2 separate regions of the Homo sapiens genome follow, and region 2 is linked to region 1. A link means that fine-mapping ties the variant in region 1 to the expression of a gene that starts in the linked region. Tissue or cell type: whole blood. Region 1 holds a variant in brackets; the other region holds the start of a gene. All regions are shown on one strand. Distances are from middle to middle.

Region 1 (8,101 bases):
GCAACCAACGCATCACTATAGTTTCTGTGCTGGGAGGGCCTGTCAATGCATGGCTCCTGGCAAAGTAGCAGGAGAGAGCACATTCCTCACTCAGCCCTGCCCCTCAGCCCTCACCATCTCAGAACAATGCCCCTCCCTCCACTGGCGCCCGCTCAGCCTGCAGACTGGTCCCAGGGTCCAGCGCAGGGACCATCATGGCATCAGTGACCAGAAAATTCTTTGGGAGTCAGTGACAGCAGTGGATCAGGATGGAGTTGAGGTCATTCAGAAACTAGGAGGTGAAGGAGGCGAAAAAGGTGTCCTCATCCTCCTTCTAGTCTGAAATGCATACTCTGCAGAGGGTAGGCGTGGGGAGAGTCACCCTGGTCCTCTGCCTGCAGCATGGCCACCACTGTCAGACCCATCTCCAACTTCCCAGCATAGCCACTTCCTGATGCTGATGGCTGGGCTGGGCTTCCCTCCTCTCTAGCACAACGGGTTGGATGACTTTACTTTTCCAAGTGGTTTTCTTAGACAACAAAGGATCGCAGGTTTGGTTTCTGCCTGAGGAGTCATCTGAACTCCCTTGGCCCCACCCGTTTTGAGGGAAGCCTAACATGCTCTGTGATGTGCACTAAGACCTCACCTAGGATAAGTTGAATTTGAGAAAACTGGAATACTAAAGAATGCTGGATACCAGAACGGCCCGTCCTTCCGGGCTTCCGCTCAGAGAGGCCCTTTTGATTCCCTGCCAAAACTCACCAGTCCCGGGTCCCATTCTCCTGCTACTTTGTCACAAGGCAGTGTAGATGATTTGTTAAACCAGAGTGATCATTTAATAAGAGGTTGCATTGCTTTGGGGCGTGGCACTGGTGCTAGGGTTTCTGAACCAAGAGTTTGACCTGTATAGTTTAAATGCATCGTGCACCCAGCGGCAACAAGGATATTGGAGAGTGAGCACTACTGAATCTTCCAGCTTGGTTTGCTTGTTTGTTTATTTATTTATTTATTTATTCGGAGTTTCGCTCTTTCGCCCAGGCTGGAGTGAAGTGGCGCAATCTCGGCTCACTACAACCTCTGCCTCCCAGGTTCAAGCAACTCTCCTGCGTCAGACTCCTGAGTAGCTGAGATTACAGGTGCCTGCCACCATGCGTGGCTAATTTTTGTATTTTTAGTAGAGACGGGGTTTTGCTGTGTTGGTCAGGCTGGTCTCAAACTCCTGACCTCAGGTGATCCACCTGCCTCGGCCTCCTAAGCTTAGTTTCCTTCCTTCCTTCCTTTCTTTCTTCCTTTCTTTCTATAGTCTCTCTCTGTCGCCCAGGCTGGAGTGCAGTGGTGCGATCTCCGCTCACTGCTAGCTTTGCCTCCTGGGTTCATGCCATTCTCCTGCCTCAGCCTCCAGAGTAGCTGGGACTACAGGCACCCGCCACCACCCTGGCTAATTTTGTTTTTGTATTTTTAGTAGAGACAGGGTTTCACCATGTTAGCCAGGATGGTCTCGATCTCCTGACCTTGTGATCCTCCTCACCCTGCCTGGCCTGCCTCGGCCTTCCAAAGTGCTGGGATTACAGGCGGGAGCCACCATGCCCCACCCAAGCTTGATTTATTTTCAAGTCTGCATGCCTAGGCCCCCAAGCAAGCAGGCACAATTTTGGAAGGAAAAAGTCTTTCTGCTTCAGCCTTTTTTTCCCCTTAAATTGCTGAGGATATTCAAGGACAGGTGTTCCCAGTGTTGGGGACAGTTTGAAGAAGTAGGTATGAAGTGGGGTGTAGATCAGTACACAGACCCCAGTCCCCTGACTGAATTTCAGCTGCCTCAGGAGCTTGGCTTCCTGTGGGACCGAAGTCACGGGCATCCAGAGAGGGCAGAAAAGTAGCATTGGTGCTTGCCTTGGCAAAGAAGCAAAGTTGTTAGAACTTACTTTGGCCATTCTTTTGGAAGCCCTGATAGGTGAGAATGGCTGGGCAAACATGGGCAATTACCCCACGATGAGAGAGGACATGTTGGGTGGGGCATCCTCCCAGGGTCCTTCAGCCCTGACCTTCTTCCCACACAGAAGCCACTGCTGGGCTGGGCGTGGTGGCTCACCCCTGTAATCCCAACACTTTGGGAGGCTGAGGTGGGCAGATCAGGAGGTCAGGAGTTCGAGACCAGCCTGACCAACATGGTGAAACCCCGTCTCTCCTAAAAATACAAAAATTAGCCAGGTGTGGTAGTGGGTGCCTGTAGTCCCAGCTACTCAGGAGGCTGAGGCAGGAGAATCGCTTGAACCCAGGAGGCAGAGGTTGCAGTGAGCCGAGCACAATGGCAGGACGTGCACATTCTCAGGGCAGAAGTGAGCTTCTTCAAAGGACAGGTAGGAACTGGTGGCAGCACAGAACAAGTCCTGTGATTTCCAGAATGTTCTAATTTTGGCTTTCTGGTTCTCAGTCCCACAAGGTTGCCACCAAGGACCCTCTTGCCCTGCTGCAGCCACCTCGCCCTTCCTCCCTCACCCTGCGGACCTGACACCTTGGTGTGGGGAAGATGAAGGTACACTGATCCCTTTTCCAGACCCCTGGCTGCCCAGCAGTCCTGCAGTTTCAGGGCAGTGTTCCTGCAGAAACAAAGACAGAATGGCCCAGGCTGTGGAGGGGATCCAGGTGCAGAAAGGGAGATCTTAGCCCCCAGCCTCTCCCCTCCTCTCCCCAGACCTGGGGTGGGAGCATCTTTGAACCAGGGTGTTGGCCAGCCCCTGGCCTCTGCGTCTGCTTTGCCTCTTCCCCCAGGGATGGAGAAGCCCTGCCCACTCCACCTTCCCCCCACGGCAGACCCTGCTTCAGCACCTGCTTCAGCACCTGAGGTCGTCCCCATCCGTTCACTGAGCCCCAACTCAACAGCCCAGGCCAGAGGGGACCAAAGAGTAAAGTCGGTGGGAAGAGGAAAGAGAAGACATAGCTACACCCACCACCCCCAATACTGGGCCACGATGTTCTGCCCCCAACCCCTCTGCTTCACAGGCCTGTTCTCTTTCCACCAGCTTCTCCCTCTTCCACTCACTGATCCACCACTCAACTTCCCCACCTAATCCTCTTGTCAGAGCCGGTGCTCCCCTCCCCCACTTATCTTCCATCCTCCCCTCCCTGAGTATGGTTCCTCCCAACCATCCCACCTCCTCCTTCCCGTGCCCCTCATGTCACCTTTCTGCCTCCCCCCTCCCCACTGTGTCCACACCAGCCCCCCTCCCCTGACCCATGACCACCCTGGTCCCCCTCGCTCCCTCCATGCCCCTCCTGCAGCCCCGGCCCTGCCCTTTGCCTGCCCCCTCCAGCCACTGGTAAGGGGGA[G/A]CGGAGGGGGTCCCCAGCAGCCTCAGCTGGACCCAGCGGCAGACCCCGGAGTCTGGGCCGGACCTAGAGGGGGCGAGGCAGCGTGGCGGGGGGCGGGGGGCGGAGGGGGTAGGGGTGAGGTGGGGGAGGCGGGGAGGCCGGCGGGGGGAGGGGTGGCAGAGGGGAGGGGAGGCGGGGGACGCCTTGTGCAAACGCAGCAGCAGCACCTGGCCCGAGTCCTCAGGGAGCGTCACCTGGAGGTCTTCCTTTCGGGGGGCGGGGGAGTGGGCAGAGGGAGAAGGCATAGTAAAGAGTGGCTTATTACCTTTTGTTCCCCAGGACGCTTCCCCTTTCCACACTCTCATTCCGGAGGTCGCCATAAGCAACTTCCACAATTCTGGATGTTCCAGACCCACGACCGGACTAATTTTTGGTGGAGGGGGAGCAGTATCTTTATCTTCCCACTTTAATGGGTATGTTGATTCAAATCTTCTAACTAAAGTGGGGGGATTATATGGATCATTTCTATATTCGATCATAAAGGAGTCCCCAGCGCACCCAGCGTTTTGTCCGGTGCAATTTCTAGCAAAAGATTCCTTAGGAGCCCAGTCTATAATGACCCCATGAGAACCATTTCGCAAAACTACCGCATTATCTGCCACACAAACCTCCCAAGTAAGAATTTCTCATTTTTCTGACCATTCTGGATTCCTTTTAGGGCAAGCCAATCCCTTAGGCTTGCAATTTTGGACTTTTATATTTGACTGATAATAACTATCCCCTTAAGTTTTTACAGTCCTGATGGGTTGAAAAGACATTCCACTCACTACGTGATAACTAGGTTGAGAACGATTATGAGGAGGTACGTAGACCATCCAACTTTGTATTTGTAATGGCAAACATCCAGGAGCAATTCCTAAACAAACTGGAGGGTATTTATACCCAATTATCCCATTCATTAACATGCCCTCCTCCTCAGGCTATGCAGGACAGCTATCATAAGTCGGCCCAGGCATCCAGATACTACCATTTGTATAAACTTCAGTAGGGGAGTCCATCCAAGTGACAGGTCTAATCAAAGGAGGAAATGGAACATAAGCCCAGTAGTAAAATTTTGCTTAGCTGAAACAGCAGAGAGACTTACCGCCGTGGTGATTACCATCAAGGCAGCCAAGATCATATTACCCGGTGTAATCGCTAGTTGTTTCTCCTTTAGGGTGTCCTCTGCCAATTGAGTCAGCTTCTTTATCTGTCCCCATGTCAGTGGTGTAGCCTAGCGAGTCTTCTCCGTCTTCTGTTTTTTCTCCGAGACGCTCAGCTTCACCATTTTCCTCAGCTCCCGAAAAGACAGGTCGAAGGGACCGGTCTTCTTTCTCTTTTGATTCTTTCCTTTTTTCTGACCGGTCGGTGTAGGGTTCATTGTAGAATTTTAAATGTCTATTGGGTATCCAAATGAGTGTTTGATTGTCTCTTGGTGAAACACAAGGAAAACCCCTCCCCCAAGTAATACTTTTTCTTAATTTCCAAGTTTTGGTTCTGGTATCCTTCCACCAGACCATTTTTCCTTTCTGTGGCACACCCATGACTGCAAAACAAGATAATAAATGTCGTTTTACGTGAGCTGTGCTTTCTCCAGTTTGGCGTGTAGCCCAGATAAACCGAGAAAAAGTATTAACAGTAACATGTACGAAAGAAAGTTTTCCGAATGATGGGACATGAGTCATGTCCATTTGCCACACTGCATTTGGTTGAAGCCCCCTAGGGTTACCTTCAGGTTTTTGGGTGGGTAGCTGTAGCACTTGGCACTGAGGATGTTGTACTATATTTTTAGCTTGTTTCCAGGTAAATGAATATTTATTTTTTAATCCAGCAGCATTTACATGAATTAGGGAATGGAAGTTTTGAGCTTTTGTTCGCGTCTGTGTGAAGAGACCACCAAACAGGCTTTGTGTGAGCAACAAGGCTGTTTATTTCACCTGGGTGCAGGTGGGCTGAGTCCGAAAAGAGAGTCAGCGAAGGGAGATAGGGGTGGGGCCCTTTTATAGGATTTGGGTAGGTAGTGGAAAATTACAGTCAAAGGGGGTTGTTCTCTGGCGGGCAGGGGCGGGGGTTGCAAGGTGCTCAGTAGGGGAGCTTCTGAGCCAGGAGAAGGAATTTCACAAGGTAATGTCATCAGTTAAGGCAGAAACCAGCCATTTTCACGTCTTTTGTGATTCTTCAGTTGCTTCAGGGCATCTGGATGTATACGTGCAGGTCATAGGGGATATGATGGCTTAGCTTGGGCTCAGAGGCCGGACACTGTTAGAACAGGCGTCACTAATAAATTTGCTTGATTATTTAATAGGGTTAAAGGTCCTGGTAAGTTTGTGTGAGCCTAAATATGTGTAATATAAAAGGGAAAATTTTGAGTCCTAACTGCTTGTTGAAGTGAACTAAACAAGAAATTTAACTGATCATCAGAAATATGTTTTACTAAAGCTGTTTTTACCATTTTGGCAGCTTGGAATACGTAAGCAGAGTCAGAGATTATATTAACAGGTTGATTACAATCTTCCAATACAGATATAACTGCTTGTAGCTCAGCTCTTTGTGCAGAATGAAACTGAGTTTGAATAATCTTTTCTTCCGGTCCTGTATAAGCTGCTTTTCCATTCTGAGAGCCATCAGTAAAGATAGTTACGGCTCCCTCCAAAGGAATGGAACTAGTTATTTTGGGTAAAATTTAGGTAGTCAATTTTTAGGAACTGAAACATTTTAGTTTTAGGGTAATGAATATCTATACTGCCAACAAAATCAGCCAGATTTGACTGCCATTCTGACGAATTAATAAAGGCTTGTCGAACCTGTGCTTTGTTTAAAGGAACTACATTTTTATCTCGATCGGTGCCAATGAGTCTGACTATTCTCAGTTGTATTTGGCCTATAAGAATAGCTATTTGATCTAAATAAATTGAGAAAGTTCTAGTCGTACTGTGCGTTAAAAAGGACAATTTAACTAAGTCAACATTTTGAACAATCACTCCTATAGGAGAATGGAGAGTAGGGAACACTAAGAGCTGTAATGGAACACTAGGATCTCTTCTACGGACTTGAGCACTTTGAATTTTTTCCTCAATCATTTGTAACTCTTCAGCTGCAGCAGGCATCAGAGTTCTTTTGCTACATGAATTTGGATCCCATCTCAGCAAAGCAAACAGTTTAGACATTGCTTAGGTGGGAATTCCTAAAGTAGGTCTTATCCAATTAACGTCCCCTAATAATTTTTGGAAATCATTTAAGGTTTTTAAGGACTCTTTACGAATTTCCTCCTTTTGAGGCTTTACTGTTTTCTCCTGTACCCTCATTCCCAGGTAATGATAGGGTGTAGTATGGATTTTATCTGGTGCTATAGCGAGACCTGTAAGTCCCACCACTTCTTGTAGCCTAGCAAAACACTCAATCCGTCTGTCCCTGCTTGCAGCAGCACATAAAATGTCATCAACATAATGAATAATATAGCAATCAGGAAACTGATCCCTGACAAGCTGAATAACCTTTCCAACAAAAGTTTGACTATTTAACATTCCTTGGGGTACAACTTTCCATCGATATATAGTAGCTGGTTCCTTGTTATTCATGGCAGGTATTGTAAATGCAAATTTCTCAAAATCCTGAGGAGCCAAAGGAATAGTAAAAAACACAATCTTTTAGATCAATTATTACCATCGGCCATTCTTTTGGGATCATGGCCGGAGATGGCAACCCTGGTTGGAGAGCTCCCATCGGTTGAATGGCTGCGTTAACCGCTCATAAGTCGGTCAATATGCGCCATCTAGCGAATTTTTTCTGAATTACAAAAACTGGGGCGTTCCATGGTGAAAAAGATGGTTCAATATGTCCTTTGTCTAATTGTTCTTTTGCCAATGAATGTAATGCCTCCAGTTTTTGTTGAGGAAGCGGCCACTGATCAACCCAAACAGGTTTTGGAGTTTTCCGTTTTAATGCAATGGGCTTTGGAGGCTCAACAGTGGCCGCACCTAAGAAGGATATCCAATTCCTCTTCGGTCAAATTTAACTGAGACCTCAATCGGCTGGGTTATTCCGTCCTCATTTTTTTCCTAATCCTTTCCCAGGAATATATCCCATTTTGGTCATCATTCTTTGGCTCTCAGGACTGTAAATTGCAGGGGGAATGGTGATTTCTGTACCCCATTGCTGTAACAAATCTCTCCCCTACAAATTAATGGGAATGAAAGTAATCATAGGTTGGATGGTGACTTCCTGCCCATCTGGTCTTAAACGATGTAAAATTGTAGCACTTTGATAGACTTCAGATGCTGTGCCTACTCCAATCAAGCCCATAGAAGCCTTTTGTCGGGGCCACGCTTTTGGCCACTGATTTAGAGCTATAATTGAAATATTAGCACCTGTGTCTACCAGTCCTTCAAACTGTTTTCCCTGAATCATTGTGCACACAGGTCTGTTTTTAGAAGCTTGATTTACTCAATAGGCTGCTTTTCCTTCACTGTCAGTACTGCCAAAACCACTTTCTCTTTTTACTGTACTTTTTTCTACTATTACATAAGGTAATAACAACAGCTGAGCAATTCTATCTCCTGGGTTTGCACTCCAAGGAATACTGGAACTAATAACCAATTGAATTTCTCCCACAAAATCTGAATCAATCAGCCCAGTATGAATCTGAACTCCTTTTAAGTTTAGACTAGATGTTCCTAAAACAAGTCCAACTGTCCATCAGGTAAAGGGCCAAATACTCCAGTGGGGACTTTTTGAGGGGATTTCCCTGGAAGCAGAGAGATAGCTTTTGGGAAACATA
Region 2 (8,101 bases), 25 kb before region 1:
GCCTCCTGAATAGCTGGGATTACAGGCGCGTGCCACAACGCCCGGCTAATTTTTGTATTTTTAGTAGAGACGGGGTTTTACCATGTTGGTCAGGCTGGTCTTGAACTCCCGACCTCATGATCCGCCTGTGTTGGCCTCCCAAAGTGCTGGGATTATGGGCATGAGCCACCGCGCCTGGCCCTTGGATTCATTTCTACGGACAACCCCATTTTAAGCTCTGGTGAACTTTAAGCAGGGGAGTGGCGTGATTTGATTTTTCTTTCTCTGTGTCTTAGGAGAGTGGGTCCCCAGGAGTTAGTTGCTCCTTGCCTTGCAGGGCTTGGGGTGGGGTCAGGCACGGGGGATACCCCAGCAGTGAGAACTCAGCTTCCTGTGTGGATGGCCCCTAGTTAGCAACCCCAGTGAGTGTGAATCCTTCCCAGAAACCTCTCCTCCTCACTGGCTCCCGCCCCTGGTCCAGGAGAACCAGTTCTTCAGCCCAATGAGCACCTATCAAGAGTCACGCGTCTACGTTTTGGTCATAGCTGGGGAGTGCCCCATCTACATCCTCATGCCTGATCCCGTCCCTGTCCCTGCCCCAGCCACATTGACATCCTCAGCATCCCTGCCTCCATCTCCGTCTCCCTCAGGAACCTAATTCCCACTCCACACTGGAGCCCTGAGCAAACCCAGGGCCACCCTGGGATTTGGGTTGGAGGAGACCTATTGGTAGCAGGATATGACTCAGTTTGCCCAGTCCACTGCCCTGCTTCTCACCAAGCCTCAGCAGCCCCCTGGGGACACAGGGCAAAGGGGAGAGATTAGAAAGAGGAAGCTGGGAGAATTTGCATGGAATTTGCATCTTAAGATTTGCATCTTCAGGCTCCCAGCATCCTCCAAGAGTCATCGAGGTGGTTGAGGAGGGAGATCCCAGGGGGGAGATCCAGCTGGACGGCTTCTGTCTGCAGCCCAGGACAGCCAGCCCTGCCACCCAGAGCTGGGCACAACCCTCATCCTCAGCCTTCTCCCCTCTCCTCCCTCCCTCCCCACCCAACCCCTTTCCCTCCCCTACACCACGCCTTGCCCCTTCTCTCACCCTGAGCCCAAGTCAGCTCTCTTCGGATCTTCACCATAACTCCAAAGCCATCATCGATTCAATCCCCAGCCCTGACCTTGTCCTTGTCATTAACCCATTCAACTATGTTTTCGGTGTCTCCCAGGTACCAAGTATGACACCAGGAGATGGGGACAAAACCAAAAAAAAGTATGGACTAATTTATTAGAGAAAACAGACATCAATCAAAGATGTTAGCTATAGTGCTGTGAGAGCCATGTATAGTGAAATTTGGCTTTCCTGGAAAAAGCAATTATTGAGCTAAGATCAGGAGGAAGAGGAAACGTGACCTCAGTTTGAGAGGTAGAGAGGGAACAGCATGTGCCAAGGCCCTGGGATGGTGACGAGCTGACTTCACTTCCTTCAGGTCTTTACTCAAAAGTCTTCTTCCCAAGGAGCCCTCCTTGGCCACTCTGTATCTAAAATATCCTCCTTTTCTTTTTTCTGAGATGGATTTTCGCTTTTGTTGCCCAGGCTTGATAGCAATGGCATGACCTTGGCTCACTGCAACCTCTGCTTCCTGGGTTCAAGCTATTCTCCTGCCTCAGCCCCCGAGTAGCTGGGATTACAGGCATGCGCCACCATGCCCGGCTAATTTTTATTTTTAGTAGAGACGGGGTTACTCCATGTTGGTCAGGCTGGTCCCGAACTCCTGACCTCAGGTGATCCGCCCACCTCAGCCTCCCAAAGTGCTGGGATTACAGGCATGAGCCACCATGCCCGGCACTCCTCTATTTTTTATATTATCCTTCCCTGTTCTCTCTTTTCTCTTCAGCACTTATCACTATTTAACATACTATTTAATGTATTTGGTTACTAGGTAATATTGTCTGCTTCCCTCACTTGAAGGCAAGCTCCATGGGTGCAGGGGTTTGCTTTGATCGCATTGTATTTTCAGGACCTGACACAGCGCTGAACACACAGTAGGGGTTCGGCCAGTGTCTGTTGATGAATGAATGAAAGGCACGTGGTCCCAGACAGAAGAGAGCAAAGGGGAATGTGAGGGGTGAAGCCAATCAGGCAGGCCGTGGGGGCCACGGGAGGGGATGGTGTCACTGTCCCAAAGGTAAAGAGGAGCCACTGCCAGGCTTGATCAGGGTTGGGAGGAGGGAACATAGAGAGTGATGTGAACAGATTTGGGTCTGGAAAAGATCATTTCAATCCCCAACTCCAGCCACATCTGTGTCTCTAACCTAAACCTGAATTGCAGTTTCGACCCCATTCCACATCCAGTCTGGAACCTACTGGAACCTTCTCTTCATCTCACAATCCCAGCCCCCTCTGACCCTAACTTGGCCTGGGCATTGAATGACCTTCCTTCGATGGTGATGGAAGCGTGCCATCAGGGAGGAAAGCAGGGCTATGCTTCCTGGTTGACAGAAGCTGCTCCTCGGAGGTGAAAGGAAAGAGGACAGGTCCAGAAAAAGGGAATAGGAACGTGCCTGCCTCCTCACTCTCCCTGGGTCCCAAATCCTATCTTTGGAGAGTCTATCTCTGACTCTCTCATAATGCTCTTCACCTTACTCCTAACACCTTCTCCCTATCCTGCGGCTCTGACTTCTGTGATTCTATCAGCAACTAGTTCCCAATCCCAACCTCCCACGCTTATTTTCTTCAGAGCACTTAGTATCCAAAATTATAGTGAACAAATTCTTGTTTACTGTTTCTTTCACTTCTTTCCCAGCTATTCCGTAAGCTCCATGTATGTTTCATTTCTTCTCTGCCTCTGCAGTGCCTAGAACGCCGTGCACCGTGCTCACTACATATCTGAGGGAGGAACGACCTGGTTCCCAACAAACACAGTTCCACTGGAGCTCAGCCCTGCCTCCAGCCCTCTTCCTAGCTTCATTCTTTTTTGGGAGGGAAGTGAGGGTATGTACTTTATGAAATTAAAGGATAACACATAATGAAATGAATGAAGTACCCTAGACGCCCCTCAGATCAAGATAAGAACACCTCCAGCAGCCTATATGGCCTCCCTCTGCCAGGGATACTCACCAGTAGAGGTTGTCTGAGAATTGCTCAGTTTTGCTGGTTCTGGAAGTTCCTATCAATGGATAACAGAACGTATCCCCTTTAATGTCTGGCTCTTTTTGCTCAGTATCATCTTTGTGAGACTCATCCGCATTGCAGTTCATTCTTTTTATTCCTGGGTAGAATTCTATTTTATGATTATACCACAAAATATTGATCATATTAATCCATTATTTAACTTAATTCTTTTGTCTTTTTTTTTTGGAGACGGAGTCTTGCTCTGTTGCCCAGGCTGGAGTGCGGTGGCACGATCTCAACTCACTGCAACTTCCGCCTCCTGAGTTCAAGCGATTCTCCTGCCTCAGCCTCCCAAGTAGCTGGGACTACAGGCGCATGCCACCACGCCTGGCTAATTTTTGTATTTTTAGTAGAGACAAGGTTTCACCATGTTGGCCAGGCTGGTCTCGAACTCTTGAGCTCAGGTGACCCACCTGCCTTGGCTTTCTAAAGTGCTGGGATTACAGGCGTGAGCCACCACGCCCAGCTATTTAACTTAATTCTTATGCCCCAGATTTCACTCTGTCTTCTAATTTAGTTTTTTTTTTTTTTTTTTTGGGCTTCTGATTTTATATCCAACTCCAATCCCTCACCAGTGGATCCTGGCCCCACAGGAAGCAACAGATCCCCTTCTCCTACCCTGATCGTTCCTCCCCGCAGCATCTTCAGGCCTTTGGGCACCCATGTGGTCCCCGAGCCCTAGCTTCAACACCTCCCACCCTTCCAGTCACAGACTCTGGGCCCTGGGGCAGAAGGACAGGCCAGCTTTCTCACTGTGGCCACTACCTGTCCCATTTCCCAGAGAGGAATGGCCTGGAGGCTGGCCAGCTGCGCTGCCACTTAGTGCCCCTCCCCCTCCCCTCCCCCGCCCACCAGTGGCCTCAGAACCAATGCAAGTCACTCACTGCCCATGGCCCTGCTTAGTAGGGGTGCCTGGCACTGTAGCCAATGGGGACTGGCAGGAGGAAGGAGCTTATTAGTCTGATAAAGATCTGGGGACCACACCCTGCCCCCTCCCGCAACTTCCCTAGGGCCCTGGCTCAGGCTGGACTGGCTCCCCCACCCTGAAGGCGCCTTCATCCACGGCATCTTCTATCCGCCCTTTCAGAGGCAGGCCCAGTGCCCTGCCTGCTCTTCCTCCCCACCAGCTCCCAGAAGGCTTGGAGCCCAGACACCTGCTCACTCACCACCAGCTGGGCTCCGCCTGGGCCTGCCCGGCACCCACCCCGGCCACCAAGGGCAGCAGCTTTTCCAGAATTTGGCTGGCAGGCCTAGTCACCCCACCTCGCCACCTCACCACTGCACCTCGGAGGCCAGCCCTGTCCACTCCACTCTGTGCCTGGCTTCTCTTGCCTGCCTTGGGCCTTCGTGTGGCCCCTCCACGGTGTCTGGGACTGAGTGCCCCTCTTGCCTCCTGAAGAGCAGCCATGGCCACCTACAAAGTCAGGGTGGCCACAGGCACCGACCTCTTGTCGGGAACACGGGACTCCATCTCACTGACCATTGTGGGGACACAAGGAGAGAGCCATAAGCAGCTGCTGAACCACTTTGGGAGAGACTTTGCAACTGGGGCGGTAAGAGTGTGTGTGTGTGTGTGTGTGTGTGTGTGTCTGTGTGTGTGTGTGTGTGTGTCTGTGTGTGTCTGTGTGTGTCTGTGTGTCTTTGTGGCCCCGGGAGGGGTGAAGGTGCGCAGGGGGAGCCAGGTGAGCTGAGCTTGGCGAGGAGAGGCTGGAGAGCTGAGGCACAGCTCCGAAGGCAGTGGGCTCCCCAGTGGCTCTACACGCCTTGTCCAGAGCTGGCTTCCAGCCCCTCGCCCATGTCCCAGATCTCTGGGCCATCCTTCTCCATCCTGCTCCTTCATCTCTAACCCTTTCAGGCATTCCTCATCTCCCTCCCCATCCTTTTCTTCTCTCTCCCTCTTCCTCAGCCCTCTCTCCCTGTCTCTGCCTATCCTGCATCTCTCTTTTCTCAATCCTTTCCACCTGCTTTCCTTCCCCTTTGCTCTCCTCCCCTTTCTGTCTTACCCCCTCTCCCGCATCCCTCTCTCTTCCATTCTCAGTCACTCTTCCTAATTCAGCTGCCTCCTAACTGTCTCACATTTGCACTGGATTCTCTGTGACTTAAAATGGCATCAGACCAGCCTGTCCAGTGGAAGGCACGCTTTGCGGGTCCTCAGACCTGATTTTCAGTCAGACCCAGCCACCTGCTGCTAGGCGACCTTAATAGGTCACTCTATCTATGTGGCCATTCTGAATATCTGCATCTTCATTGATGAATGGGAGAAGGGGCTGGCTGGGCCTCTCCCCACTCGAAAACTGTAGAGTGGTACCCAAGTCCCCAGGGGTCTGAAGGGTTCCTGCAACCTCAGGTGCCTGGAGAGGGGAGTGGGAGAAGACAGGAGCTGGGGATGGAGAGAAGGAGGGGCTGGAGTCCTACATAGCCCTGGGTAGAGGAATCCAGTAGGAGACCCCCAAGCTGGAGAAGTCAGAAGGAAGCTCAATGATCAGGTCAATATCCTGTCCCTCCGTCAGTCCAGGGAGGTGAGCATTGCGCAGCATGAGCAGGGCCTAGGTGAGGGGCCAGAGGGGTGGGCGGCCTGGGAGCCGGGGTGAAGTCCTGCCCACTCAGCCAGGCTTGCATCCTGCCTAGGTGGGCCAGTACACCGTGCAGTGCCCTCAGGACCTGGGTGAGCTCATCATCATCCGCCTGCACAAAGAGCGGTACGCCTTCTTCCCCAAGGACCCTTGGTACTGCAACTATGTGCAGATCTGTGCCCCCAACGGCCGTATCTACCACTTCCCCGCCTACCAGTGGATGGATGGCTACGAGACCCTGGCACTCCGGGAGGCCACAGGTAAGCCCTCATCACCCTGCTCCATCCTATGGCCGTGAGGCCTCTAGCTCCAGCCTGCTACCCTGGCATGGCACCCAGGCTCCCATCAAGCCAGAGGGGGGCCCAGCCCCACCAGGGACTCCTGGGCTCTCCTGCCACTGTCACACATTTCCCTCAGTCAGTGCTGCTGCCCTGAGCTCAGCTTGGGGCTGCACATTGGAGGAAGAGAGGTGCCTGAGGCCCAGCAGCTACCCTCAGCATCCCCATCTGGCAGCAGACAGCATTCCCAGAGTGCGCTCCCCGCTACCTCTCCAGTCCTCCCTGACTCCTATAAGATGCCCGGCCACGTTAAAAATACCCCTTGTGATGCTAAGTACAGGCTCAGGACTCTCACAGGAGGCCTATTTATGATGCCAATCATATGCGCTCCAGAAAGACGCCCTGTTACTCCAGCAGGATTCTGTTACTATAACAGGATGCCCCATTATTCCAACCAGCACCTTGCTATCCCATTTAGAAGCCCTTTGAGTTCAACAGGTCTCCGTGGTGCTGCGGTCTTATAATTATGACGCCCTGGCTTTCTTTTTTTGAGACGGAGTTTCACTCTTGTTGCCCAGGCTGGAGTGCAATGGCACGATCTCGGCTCACTGCAACCTCCACCTCCCAGGTTCAAGCGATTCTCCTGCCTCAGCCTCCTGATGCTAGTTTTTGCATTTTTAGTAGAGATGGGGTTTCACTTTGTTGGCCAGGCTGGTCTCAAACTCCTGAACTCAGGTGATCTGCCTGCCTCAGCCTCCCAAAGTGCTGGCATTACAGGCATGAGCCCCAGTTTTCTAATTGAGCATTTTTTAGACTGATGGGATGTTCTATTGCTCCAAAGGACTCCCTATTTTCCCAACAGGACACCATATTTCTCTAACAGGATGCACTGTTACTCCAAAAGGCCCCCCTTAATCCAGTAAGGATCTATCTAATAGGGGCCCTGTTATTCAGATAGACTGTCAGGGTTTCTCCAAGGTTAAGGCTGGCCAAGGCTGCCCAGTGGGTTTTCCACTTGCTTGGTTACTCCCATGGGAGAGACATAGGACCGGAGTGGCTGAGCTCCTTGCACCCACCCCTGCCAGAGCCCCTTGTGTGGTGGGCTGGGGTCAGCTTCCTAATTTGTGGTGCTGCATGAGGACTGGGGGCCTGTCCTCTCTTATCTCCCAGTTCCACCACCTGAGTGTCTGTTGGCTTCCCTTGAGGCGAATGGGAGGGAAAGGCTGAGCTGAGGACACCCAGGGCCCGAAGCCCCATCCTCCCTGCAGCTGACTACCTCTCTTCCGTTTCTCATTGCCCTGTGCTGGAATCTTCCCCCAGGATTGGGGAACAGGGCCTGAGCTGGGGAAAGGAGAGGCGAGGAAAGCCTGGGAGATGGTGAGCATGCCAAGGGGAGGGTCTCACTGGGGACACAGAGCATCTTCCTGCAGTGACAGGTCTGGGTGACATGGAAGCAGGGGACAGGCAGGGTGATGCTGGTGGCCAGGCAGGAATGGGGTTGGGTGGGGCCGCTGCCACGCAACAGGACAGGGAGACTTGAGTCACCCATAGGGCCCTCAAAGGAGTGAGTCTTCCGCCCTGGGGATGAAAACGAGCTAGGTCTCTGGGTTGCACAACTCCAGGGAGCACTGTTCATCCAGAATACAACATGAGCTGAGGCAGGTGGAGGAGGGAGAGGGTGGTGAGGTAAGGGACTTGAGGGGAAATGATGGGCTGCAGCGGTAGGCACAGGCCAGCCTGGGGACCACCAGCCAGGGTGCTGGAGAAAGACGGACCTGGACTTAGGTCTCAGTTCTTCCACTGACTAGCTGGACATTTGGGCATATTTTCAAATTTTTTTTTTTGAGATGGAGTCTCGCTCTGTCGCCCTGGAGTGCAGTGGCGCAATCTCGGCTCACTGCAACCTCCACCTTCCAGGTTCAAGTGATTCTCCTGCCTCAGCCTCCTGAGTAGCTGGGACTACAGGCGAGTGCCACCACGCCCGGCTAATTTTTTGTATTTTTAGTACAGATGGGGTTTCACCGTGTTAGCCAGGATGGTTTCGATCTCCTGACCTTGTGATCTGCCTGCCTTGGCCTCCCAAAGTGCTGGGATTACAGGTGTGA

What was found. PIP is the estimated chance that this variant, and not a neighbour inherited with it, causes the effect.
Region 2: it holds the start of ALOX12B, and the variant in region 1 is fine-mapped to the expression of ALOX12B in whole blood (TOPMed, PIP 0.99).

What each region holds. Positions count from the first base shown.
Region 1 is chr17:8,059,389-8,067,489 of GRCh38, reverse strand. No RefSeq gene overlaps it. Among named protein-coding and RNA genes, the nearest start is that of ALOX12B, 24 kb to the left of the region's middle. RefSeq lists an enhancer at 2,642-3,143. The variant G/A (reference allele first, on the strand shown) is at 3,307.
Region 2 is chr17:8,083,893-8,091,993 of GRCh38, reverse strand. It overlaps ALOX12B (arachidonate 12-lipoxygenase, 12R type), which reads left to right and starts at 4,278. Exons shown (of 15, transcript NM_001139.3): 1 at 4,278-4,698; 2 at 5,774-5,978. The coding sequence starts at 4,552. It overlaps MIR4314 (microRNA 4314), which reads right to left and starts at 3,938; the gene lies at 3,847-3,938. RefSeq lists an enhancer at 4,502-5,250.